Regions from separate parts of the Homo sapiens genome. Here all the other regions are linked to region 1. The links come from fine-mapping of genetic effects on gene expression. A gene starts in region 1. Each other region holds a variant in brackets. All regions are shown on one strand. Distances are between the middles of the regions.

Region 1 (2,682 bases):
ACCATGTCTGGCCATATCCCTTCATTTTTAAGGGAAGAATATTTTTCCGATCTTCTAATTCTATTTCTTAGTTCCTCTACACCCCATCCTTTCTGTGACCCCATTCTGTCCTTCCACATCTCTCTCACCTGTCCACCCCCTTCTTCACACTTCAGTTTACCACCCCCTCTCTGTTCTCGAACCTCCTGGTTGCAACCTCAGAAACTGGTTCCCTTTCTATTTTTATCTCACCTCAGAAAACCTACTGCCTTCGAGCACAAAGCCTTACTTTATTGAGGCCACTAAAACTGCAACACCAGATGCAAGCCCACATCCTCTTTCAAGCTCTAAAGTCAAGACCATTACCAAGCAGGGTCTGACAGGTACAGCCAAGAGCAGAGATTATTTCCAGTGGACAAGACTTCCCCCTGGCCTTTGATTTCCAACCTTTCCCAAATGCAATACATGTGAAGCACACAGCACGAAACGCACTCAGCAGGCTTTATCACTCCATAAAAAATAGGCACAACATTTACAAAAAATCAAAAAGAACTGAAATTATCTGTAACAGTTTTGCAAATTCCTTCGAAGTAACTAAAAACACTGCAGGACGGAAAAAACAACCCAGGGCTGCAAATCTTTGCTTTAGGTAACATTTCACTAGATGAGGGTGCCAGGATTCTCCTCCCACATGGACACAGAGAACAGATGCGCTAAGCTGCAGCAACAGGTTTCTTTTCAAAAAGAAAATGTGCTTTAAAACACTTCAGGCAGGTCTGGTAGAGCTTGGAGTCCCTAATAAATACACAAAACACCGGAGATCAGGTTAGGGCAGGCCGTGGGCAATTCAACCACTTCTAGGACCTTTCCAGGGCCCACTGAGGTAATAACTGCTTTCCCTCTTGCCCTGGAAGTAACTGGTGACGCCGCCTCCAGCCCTTGAGGAGCCGGAGAAAGGGTGGCCCAGGCCCAACCTTTGGAGGATACTGCCTTGGCTCTCTCTCACAAATGCAACGGCCCGGGACGGTGTCGCCTTCCAGGAAGGGCCTTTGCGTCTCCCTCCCCCGGGGACACCGCGAATTCCCGCCTCCCGGCGGAAAGCGGGAGAAGCGAGAGTTTTCTCCCCGCCCCTCCCCCAGTAGGGGCAAACCCGCCCCTCAGCAGGCCTGTGCTGTGCGCTCCTCTCCCGGGGACCACCGTCCTCAGATCTCCCCAGGGAATGGGTCGTCCTCTTCCTGCCCCCACCCGCGAGACGCGGCAGAAAAGCCCGCGGCTATCTTCCCGCCAGCAACAGCCTCCCGCCGAGCCGGCCGGGACAGAGGCGGCCCCCACCCCCACTGGGCAGGGGACTGCAGACGGCGCTCCCCGACTCTCAAGACGACCAGGGAGCTTCCCTTTTCCTCAGCGGGGTGAGGGGCATCTGTCGCCCGCCGACTTGGAGGTGGAGGGGCAGGGACATTCCCTCGCCATCACCTCAGGAGCTAGAACGCGCCCTTCTCGCAGCAGGGCGTGGGCCTCCCAATCCCTCCAAGGGGCGGACGGCGTGCGCAACCCCCTGGAGAAGCAACAGGCGCCCCCATCCCCCTCCAAGCCGGGTAACGCCGACCCCCTCGTCCCTCCCGCTCTTCACCTCCGGAAGCCGGGCCAAAGCCTGGGCGAACGACTGCGCCTCACTCCGCCCCCTGCGCCATTTTATCGCCCCCTCCCCGACCTCCCCTACCCCGAGTCAGCCGGGCCAACACCAGGGGGAGGGCAAACCAGCAGTGATTGGCAGGAAACCGTCCCGCCTCTAGGAGGGTTGTGCCCCGCTCAGGCGCCTCAGCCCCGCCCTCCGCACCGCCCACCGTGCCCACTGGCTCCACCTTTTCCCGTCTCATCGACCTGCTCGACTCTCTGCTGCTCCTCACTTTTTCCGGCCGCTGCCGGAGGGGTCCAGGCCGAGTAAGCGGAGCGCCGAGCCCAGCTGATGCAACCTGGCTGGACTCGCGTGACAGTTCCCGGCACGCGGCGGCGACGGTGACCCAGGAAGGGGCTCTGGTGCCGGGCTGAGCGGGGGAAGCAGGGGTAGCGGAGCCATGGGGGACGCTCCCAGCCCTGAAGAGAAACTGCACCTTATCACCCGGAACCTGCAGGTCAGGCCTGGGGGTTGGAAATGCGCCGTTGGGGATTAGGAGCCCGAGGTTCAGTGATTTTGAGCCCCATTACGGGGTTCTAAGTATGTGGGGCCGGGGACTCGGCGCTGGCGCAGCTCTGAGAGAGCCTGTAGATCTCACTGCTGGTCGGTCAGTCAATCAAGCAGCCCTTCCCTGGGTTCCCCAGAAATCACAGTGGGCTCACCTCTTGCGTCCAGTTGTCTTGTGTTGGAGCCAAACTTTGAATCCAGGACTCCCATTCCACCCCCCTATTAAGTGCCAGACGTGGTGCTTAGTCGCTGGGGATACGTCAAGGGCCTGCCAGAGCTTGTCTGAAGGGGATCAGACGTTAAAAATGACCCATTACGGTTCAAGTAAGTACTGGAAGATGCTATACTGGGAGCTTTAAAGGGAAAGAGAGAAGGGAAGGCTTCCCTGAGGAAGTGACCTCCAAACTGCGCCTTGAAGGAAATGGATCCCCCCCCCTCACTCCACAAATGTTCCGTTTGTTACCAAGAACTACAGGAGTAGAAGTGAACCAGAGGAAGAATGGAAGAATAAGGAGGGAGAG
Region 2 (2,683 bases), 56 kb after region 1:
GCAGGCGACAGGTCAGGCTGGGCCCCATAAGCCTTGAGGGTTTCAGCTGGGTAGTGACACTGTTAAAAAATATTCTGGCCGTGCACGGTGGCTCACGCCTGTAACCCCAGCACTTTGGGAGGCTGAGGCAGGTGGATCACTTGAGGTCAGGAGTTCAAGACCAGCCTGACCAACATGGTGAAACCTTGTCTCTACTAAAAACACAAAAATGAGCCGGGCATGGTGGTGGTGTGTACCTGTAGTCCCAGCTACTCAGGAGGCAGAGGTGAGAGAATTGCTCAAACCCAGGAGGCAGAAGTTGCAGTGAGCTGAGATTGCACCATTGCACTCCAGCCTGGGTGACAGAGAGAGACTCCGTCTCAAAAAAAAAAAAAAAAAAAATTCCAGGCTAGCACTGTGGCTCACACCTGTAATCCTAGCACTTTGGGAGGCTGAGGTGGGCAGATCACCTGAGGTCAAGAGTTCAAGACCGGGCCGGGCGTGGTGGCCCATGCCTGTAATCCCAGCACTTTGGGAGGCCAAGGTGGGTGGATCACGAGGTCAGGAGTTTGAGACCAGCCTGGTCAATATGGTGAAAGCCCGTCTCTACTAAAAATACAAAAATTAGCAAGGCGCGGTGGCGGGCGCCTGTAATCCCAGCTACTTGGGAGGCTGAGGCAGGAAAATCGCTTGAATCCGGGAGGCAGAGATTGCAGTGAGCCGAGATCGCAGCCATTGCATTCCAGCCTGGGCAAGAGAGCAAAAAAATTCCGTCTCAAAAAAAAAAATAAATAAAAGATTTCCTGGGAGGCTGGGCTTGAGCCCAGGAGTTCGAGGTTACAGTGAGCTATAATTGTACCACTGCACTACAGCCTGGGCAACACAGTAAGTCCCTGTCTCTAAAAAAAAAAAAGTAAATATATAAAAATAAAGCTTAAAAAAAAAAAAGATTCCCCTGATAACTCTAAAAAACATAGCAGAGACTGTGAAAGAGAGTCTGTGAACTATATATATGTATCTGTGCAGTATCCCACCAGCCGTGCCTAAGGACACCTCTCTGTCATAGCATCTTTCTCTCTGAGTCCCTAGGGAACTAAAAATTCACAGAGGCTCCCAAGCAACACGACCCCCCTGCAGTTCCTTCCCCAGTTGCTGCCACCCTAACACTGGCCTCTTGGAGACTACTCAAGTACAAGCTGAGATCTTGCTCTCCAGAGAACAAACATTTGTGGAGCTGAATAGTCACATCAACAAATCAATGAGATCTAAACAATAATCCTAAGAAGTAGGCACTTTTATTCCCATTTTATAGATGAGGAAATGGAAACCAGAGGGAGCAAGCATTATAAAGCTGCCCTCTCTGGCCTCCA[T/C]GGTGTAAATGGCAAAGCAGTATTCTCACTCAGAACAACTTGAATCCAAAAGCCACGTTCTGTGCACTGTGCCAGCTACAAACCTGATCTCCCCTCTGAAAAAGGGTCATGGGACCCCATCATCCCTACAAATTGGAGGTTTCTCGACCACCTACCTTCCCCACTCTTCCCCTCTTAGGCCAGATCCACCCACCCACCCACTCTTCTTATCAGTCTCACACAAACAGAAAAGACCAGTAGACCGACATTTGCAGGGTGATTAATTCATGCCAGGCACCATGCCAGGTCGTGGTGAAAGGCAAAACGTAGTCTCTGTCCTCATGGCTCTTACAAAAGTTCTTCGAGGCAGGTACTGGAAGGTACTTTCCTAGTAATTGATCATGGGCCTGCGAGGCTCAGAGAGCTAAGTGACTTCCTGAACTCTGGCTGGCTCTAAAACTGGAGCCTTTCACCACACAGGACAGTCATCTTCAGCTACCCTCTAACCAGGGAAACTAAGGGCTGAGCTCCTGCCAAGATGGGGGTGGAGGAACATCAGCTCATCAAGGTCCCAGGCCCACAGCTGGCAGTCAGGGCCACAGCTGCAAATTCCCAGAGATCCAAGGGCTTACACTTGATAACATCTGGTTGCCCCAGCGACACCCCTCCCCCTCCCCACCCAAGTCAGAGCTCGCAGCCTCTCCGAGTCACCCCAGATCTATACACCTGTGGCTCGCTTGGGGAGGGGCTCAGCAACCTGAGTCTCAGGTGACTGGGAGGGGTACTTCACAAAGAAACTGAGGTCCAGAGAGTGGAAAGACCTTGCCCACAGCCACGCTTAGAGTCCTTGTTCCAGGGATTTCTGCCCCTGGCAGTCCAGAGGTGCAGCCTAGGGCTGAGGCCATGAGGGAAGCATCCCATACCACACCCCCATCCCCAACATGCCTGGGGGAGGAGGCTTCCTGGATCTGAGAAGACACCTTGCTCCTGGTGGCCACGCCCCCAGCACGGAGGGCACACCGGGAAGCACACCTGCGGGCTCCTCAACTCAGAGACAGTTTACCAGGGCAGAGACTCAGGCAGCAGGCAGCGTCCCACTGGGGCCACCTCCGCAGGTGGGCACTCTCAAAACCACACCCACATGGCCGGGTGCGGTGGCTCACACCGGTAATCCCAGCACTTTGGGAGGCCAAGGCGGGTGGATCGCGAGGTCAGGAGTTCAAGACCAGCCTGGCCAACGCCGTGAAAGCCCGTCTCTACTAAAAATACAAAAATTAGCTGGGCATGGTGTCGAGCTCCTGTAATCCCGGCTACTCAGGAGGCTGAGGCAGGAGAATCGCTTGAACCCAGGAGGC
Region 3 (2,683 bases), 730 kb before region 1:
TGATCAACTCACAGTTCTGCAGGCTGTACAGGCTTCTGCCTCTGGGAAGGTCTCAGGAAACTTACAATCATGGCAGAAGGGGAAGCAGGCACATCTTCACACGGCTGTCAGGAGAGGGAGAGCAAAGTGCAACACACTTTCAAACAACCAGATCTCATGAGAACTCACTCACTATCACGAGAACAGCAAGGGGGAAATCCACCCCATGATCCAATCACCTCTCACCAGGTCTCTTCCCCAACCTGGGGATTACAATTCAACATGAGATTTGAATGGGGACACAGAGCCAAACCACGTTAACCATCTTGTGCCTATTTTACAATAGTGCTAGCTCCAGCTGAGGTTAGCTAGCCAGTGTGTGGGTTAGAGCTGCTCACCATCAAGATTGTTTCCAGGGAGACCCAGTTCTGCCTGTTGTGTGAATTACATCCTGGCAACCTTCAAAAGATAAGAAAACCTAGCCAAATGCGATAAGCTCTCTTTTATTAATGTTTACATTGAAGGTTGAAAATGAATCCCTCTTCCACAGTGGGAAACAGAATGGAGAACATGTGGTTAGGTAGTGTCTCACAGTCTGAGTCGAGACTAGGAAAGGGAATAATCCCAAGGTTGAGAAGTGGAAAAGACATAAATGGCAAGTGGTGGGGTACACATGACTTAAACATTTATTGGCTCCAGCCAACTAGATGTGGTCACTCAGATGTTACCATTTGATGCCCACACATGGTTACATGAGGAGATAGATTCCATGATAGTTGTAACTTTATCTTTTCATGCAGTTGTCATTTATTCGGTAATTGTTCTCCTCTTTCCTCATGTTTACCATGGCCTGGTCTGATCTAAGGACATCTCCTACACATTTCTGTATCATGAAATGTGTTGGCCCTGCAGGGGACCATAGATCTTGTGGCTTTGTCTCCTGTTCTCTACCCTTCTTCGCTCCTTGGGTCCTTGGAGGTCTCTTGAGTGGGTTTGCACAATACCAGAAGCCAGAGAAATGTAGGAATGTAGCAAGAGGAAGGGGGTGAAGCAAAAATGAAATGAGAGGGTCTGAGATGTTTATTCTAGAGCTCACTTGTATGGCATAATTTGTGAGTAGGGAATCCTTAATGAAAGG[C/T]CCAGCATCGATCACCTTGAATATTTATCATTTCTTTGTGGTGAGAACATTTAAAATTCTCTCCTACAGCTACTTGGAAATATACAATACATGCATCAAAACATCACTTCCTACCCCATAAATATGTACAATGATTATTTGTCAATTAAAGATAAAATGAAACTTTTTAAAAAGTAATAAATAAATAAATAAATGCCCAAGATCAAGATTCAAGCTAGGCGGTTAAGAAATGAAGCTATGCTAAGCAGTTTGGACTTTATCCTATGGCATCGGGGAGCCAGTAAAGATGTTTCTGCAGGAAAAAATTTTTTGAAAAAAAAAAAGGTCAGATGGTTAGTGATTGTTAAGATTAGAGGACAAAGTAGAAGATGGATTAGAGGGAGAGTTTACAAGGAGGGGACATTAGTCGGGAGGCTCTTGCAAGAGTTCAGGCAAAAGAATGTTGAATGTCTAAGCTAAGACAGTGGCACAGGAGAGGAGATGGGACTACAGAATCAGCAGGTGTTTGTAGAGAAGAGGGGAAGGGGAGAAGGAGGACCTGTGGCCAGTTTGGATCACTGAAATTCCAGACTGGCACGGGCCACAGAGCCTTTCCTCTGCCTTCTTGCTTCCCCTCCCTGTGTGGTTCCCAGGGACTTACCCATGGCCTCAGATCTTTGTGTTCTTCCACCATTGCATATGGAGGCAGGAGCATGTGCAGGTAACTTGTGCTAGGCCTCATTCGTGGGACCCACTGCATCCCCTTAGTCCCATCCCAGTATCTTTCTCCCCTGCTTCTCCACTCCCTTTTCTTCCCTGAAAAATAATGGGATTTGTGTGGTTCTGGTCCATAGGAACCAGCGTGGGAGTTTGCGGTGACCCTGGGATCCCGGCTCATGGCATCCGTTTGGGGGACAGCTTTGATCCAGGCACTGTGATGCGCTTCAGCTGTGAAGCTGGCCACGTGCTCCGGGGATCGTCAGAGCGCACCTGTCAAGCCAATGGCTCGTGGAGCGGCTCGCAGCCTGAGTGTGGAGGTAATGTATGTGACCATTCTGCTTCTCCCCTTTGCCCAGCCCCAGAGCTCGCCCCTGCTCCTGCTCTTATTCCCAGGCACCTGCGCTCACAGAAAAAAACCGTGGCCCCATTTGAACCCTCAGCCTGGCTGATAGGACTGCAACAGATAATTCATGTGCATTTTCATTAGTAATCAAAAGACAAACATATTCCCACTCTCACCTCAAAAGGGAAGAAATCAAAAAAGACTGAATTTGACCCACTATTTCATTCATTTCCCATATAGTTTCATTCAGCATCTATGTGCCAAGTGCTGTGGAATGTGCTGGGGACACAATGGTGACCAAGACGGACACTGCCATGGTCTGGATATTTGTGACCTCCCAAAAATCATATGTTGAAACCTGGTCACCCAGTGATAGTATTAGGAAGTGGGGTCTTGGGAAGTTGTTAGGTCATGGAATGGGATTAATGCTCTTATAGAGAAAAGAAAATACCTTAGAATGCTCCCTTTCCCTTGTGCCATGTGAAGACACAGCAAGAAGGCACCATGTCCAAGCCTGAACAGAC
Region 4 (2,683 bases), 30 kb before region 1:
ACTTTGGGAGGCCGAGGCAGGCGGATGGCTTGAGCCCAGGAGTTCAAGACCAGCCTGGGCAACATGGTGAAACCCCGTCTCTACAAAAAGTACCCGGGTGTGGTAGTACACACCTGTAGTCCCATCGACTCCAGGGGGCTGAGGTGGGAGGATCACCTGAGCCCATGAGGTGGAGGCTGCAGTGAGCCATGATCATACCACTGCACTCCAACCTGAGTGACAGAGCAAGACACTGTCTCCAAAAAAAAAAGAAAAAAAAAGAAAGAAAAGATACTCATCTATCATCTAGTAAATCAGGAAAGCCAGGATTCAAACCCAGGTGGGGCTAATAATCCAAAAACCTCATTTTAGCTTATAGTTTGAACCTCATCTTCCTCCAAATTTAGAGATGCTAACAAGAATGGGAACATTTGAATTTTCTCTTCTCTTCATAGTCTCTAACAGATGGGCTTTCTTGGACCAACAATCAGTACCATGGGTTTATTTTAAGTTGTGGCAAAAAGGTGGTAAAGACTGTCCTTTGTTTTGTGACTAAGAATGAAATAAAGGAGGGAAAAACCCCCAATATTTCAGGAATGACGTCAACAATTCATCTAAATCTTAATCTATAAATATGAAGGTGACTGGTTTTGGGGAAACATCCAGTTTAATAACTGTTCTTAGTAAGTTTAAAGTGAATCAATTTTTATATCATAATGGAGGAGGACGGATAATGCTGAGTACCTGCTATGCCAATTCTGACAGGTTTTATAGGACATAATACTTTTTACCACCCACATGACCCTAACTCAATCAAGTGTGGCACATGACCAAAGAACAGAGACTCTCTCAGCTGGCTAATGACATAATGACCTAGAAGGCTGCCTGGTACCAGCAGGTCATTAAGTAAACCAATCAGATACTCTTCTTTGAAATGTCAATGTGAGCTTTAGTAATGAGAACAAGAGAGAACAGTACACATGCAGGGCTCTAGGAAAAACAGTTACTTGAGATAGCTAAATAGCAGCAAAAGTACTGGTCACAGAAGCAGATTAGATTAGGGAAAATCCCAATAGGGAACAGAGGCACTCATTTCTTTTTTCTTTATTTTTTTTTGAGAC[G/A]GAGTTTCGCTCTTTTGCCCAGGCTGGAGTGCAGTGACTCGATATTGGCTCACTGCAAACTCTGCCTTCCGGTTTCAAGCAATTCTCCTGCCTCAGCCTCCCGAGTAGCTGGGATTACAGGTGCCCGCCACCATACTCGGCTAATTTTTGTATTTTTAGTAGAGATGGGGTTTCACCATCTTGGCGAGGCTGGTCTCGAACTCCTGACTTCATGATCCACCCACCTTGGCCTCCCAAAGTGCTGGGATTACAGGTGTGAGCTGCAGCACCTAGTTAGAGGCACACATTTCTGACGGAGCGTGTAGTTCGGCTCTACGGTTAATTCTTTTCACTACGAGACCTGGTGAAAAGTCTCATCTAATCATCTTTTCCTGTAAATCCTTAAACTCAGTTACTTAAAGGCTATCATAATATCTCTATTCCATGCAATGTAAAGTACTTAATACCAGGGAGGGAATGAAGAGAGAAGGAAAGAAAAAATGTGCTACAGGGGACATGGGCTACTGCTTTTATAAATAGATTAATAAAATATAAATGAAAAGAAAAAATAAGTAGAAGGCAAGAATGCAAATGTGTCACCTCTAGGTCAACAAAACTGCGATGATCTAGTAGAAATCTTGACTGATTTTCCTTGCAGGCAAGGGAAAAAGTAGAAGAAACAGGAGTTATTATGTAATTCACTTATGAAGTGATACAGGGGATACTGAATGATATATGAATGTCCTCAACAGTACTGGGAAATTCAGAATCAGAATTTATATAACCATTGCTGTTTATGATCTTCAATAAAAATCAAAGCAGATATTTCCACTTGTAGCTAAGATGAATGGGGGACTTAACCTCTCACTGTAAGCTACTAGAAACTAGGCAAAATTATGAAACAAGTGCTTTCAGACTACTGAAAATTGTGATCCCCGAGGAAAGAGAAACAACTGAGGTGAGTCTTGAAACTTCTTATAAGTCTATAATTTTTCAAAATAAAAAGTTTTTTAAATGAAGGCAAAATAAACAGGTTCTAAATAAAAGCAGAGAGACTTCATCAGTAGATGTGCACTACAACAAACATTACAAGTTGTTCATTAGGAAAAAGGAAAATAATATCACATCGAAACTTGGATCTATACAAAATAATCAAAAGCACTGGAAATGTAAGTATGTGAGTGCATATAAAAGGCTATTTTTCCTATTTAGATGATGTCTTTAAAAGATAATTTACTGTTACGGCCAGGCACGGTGGCTCATGCCTGTAATCCCAGCACTTTGGGAGGCCAAGGTGGGCGGATCACCTGAGGTTGGGAGTTCGAGACCAGCCTGACCAACATGGAGAAACCCCGTCTCTACTAAAAATACAAAATTAGCCAGGTGTGGTAGCACATGCCTGTAATCCTAGCTACTAGGGAGGCTGAGGCAGGAGAATCGCTTGAACCTGGAGGCGGAGGTTGCGGTGAGCTGAGATCGCACCACTGCACTACAGCCTGGGCGACAAGAGTGAAACTCCGTCTCAAAAAAAAAAAAAAGAAAGATAATTTACTGTTTAAAGTAAAAATAACATGCCTGTAATCCCAACACTTTGAAGGATGAGG

Alleles and levels. Positions count from the first base shown, and alleles are read on the strand shown. Sizes are in standard deviations (SD) of each study's normalised expression. Not every link is listed here.
In carriers of allele T in region 3, the expression in sun-exposed skin of the gene that starts at base 1,646 in region 1 tends to be higher than with C alone (moderate effect, 0.67 SD a copy in GTEx).

What was found. PIP is the estimated chance that this variant, and not a neighbour inherited with it, causes the effect.
Region 2: its variant is fine-mapped to the expression of S100PBP in whole blood (TOPMed, PIP above 0.99).
Region 3: its variant is fine-mapped to the expression of S100PBP in sun-exposed skin (GTEx, PIP above 0.99).
Region 4: its variant is fine-mapped to the expression of S100PBP in whole blood (INTERVAL, PIP 0.98).

Annotation. Positions count from the first base shown.
Region 1 is chr1:32,816,617-32,819,298 of GRCh38, reverse strand. It overlaps S100PBP (S100P binding protein), which reads right to left and starts at 1,646. Exons shown (of 7, transcript NM_022753.4): 1 at 1,610-1,646. YARS1 (tyrosyl-tRNA synthetase 1) reads left to right here and starts at 1,941. Exons shown (of 13, transcript NM_003680.4): 1 at 1,941-2,111. The coding sequence starts at 2,055. RefSeq lists enhancers at 80-229, 690-799, 1,233-1,402, 1,770-2,079, 1,828-2,327 and 2 more.
Region 2 is chr1:32,760,677-32,763,359 of GRCh38, reverse strand. All of the region lies in intron 1 of NHSL3 (NHS like 3), which reads right to left. Among named protein-coding and RNA genes, the nearest start is that of NHSL3, 20 kb to the right of the region's middle. RefSeq lists a silencer at 1,336-1,556 and an enhancer at 2,191-2,683. The variant T/C (reference allele first, on the strand shown) is at 1,350.
Region 3 is chr1:33,545,487-33,548,169 of GRCh38, reverse strand. It overlaps CSMD2 (CUB and Sushi multiple domains 2), which reads left to right. Exons shown (of 71, transcript NM_001281956.2): 57 at 1,951-2,133. Among named protein-coding and RNA genes, the nearest start is that of ZSCAN20, 74 kb to the right of the region's middle. The variant C/T (reference allele first, on the strand shown) is at 1,118.
Region 4 is chr1:32,846,719-32,849,401 of GRCh38, reverse strand. The region is part of intron 5 of S100PBP (S100P binding protein); the gene reads right to left. Among named protein-coding and RNA genes, the nearest start is that of FNDC5, 23 kb to the left of the region's middle. The variant G/A (reference allele first, on the strand shown) is at 1,101.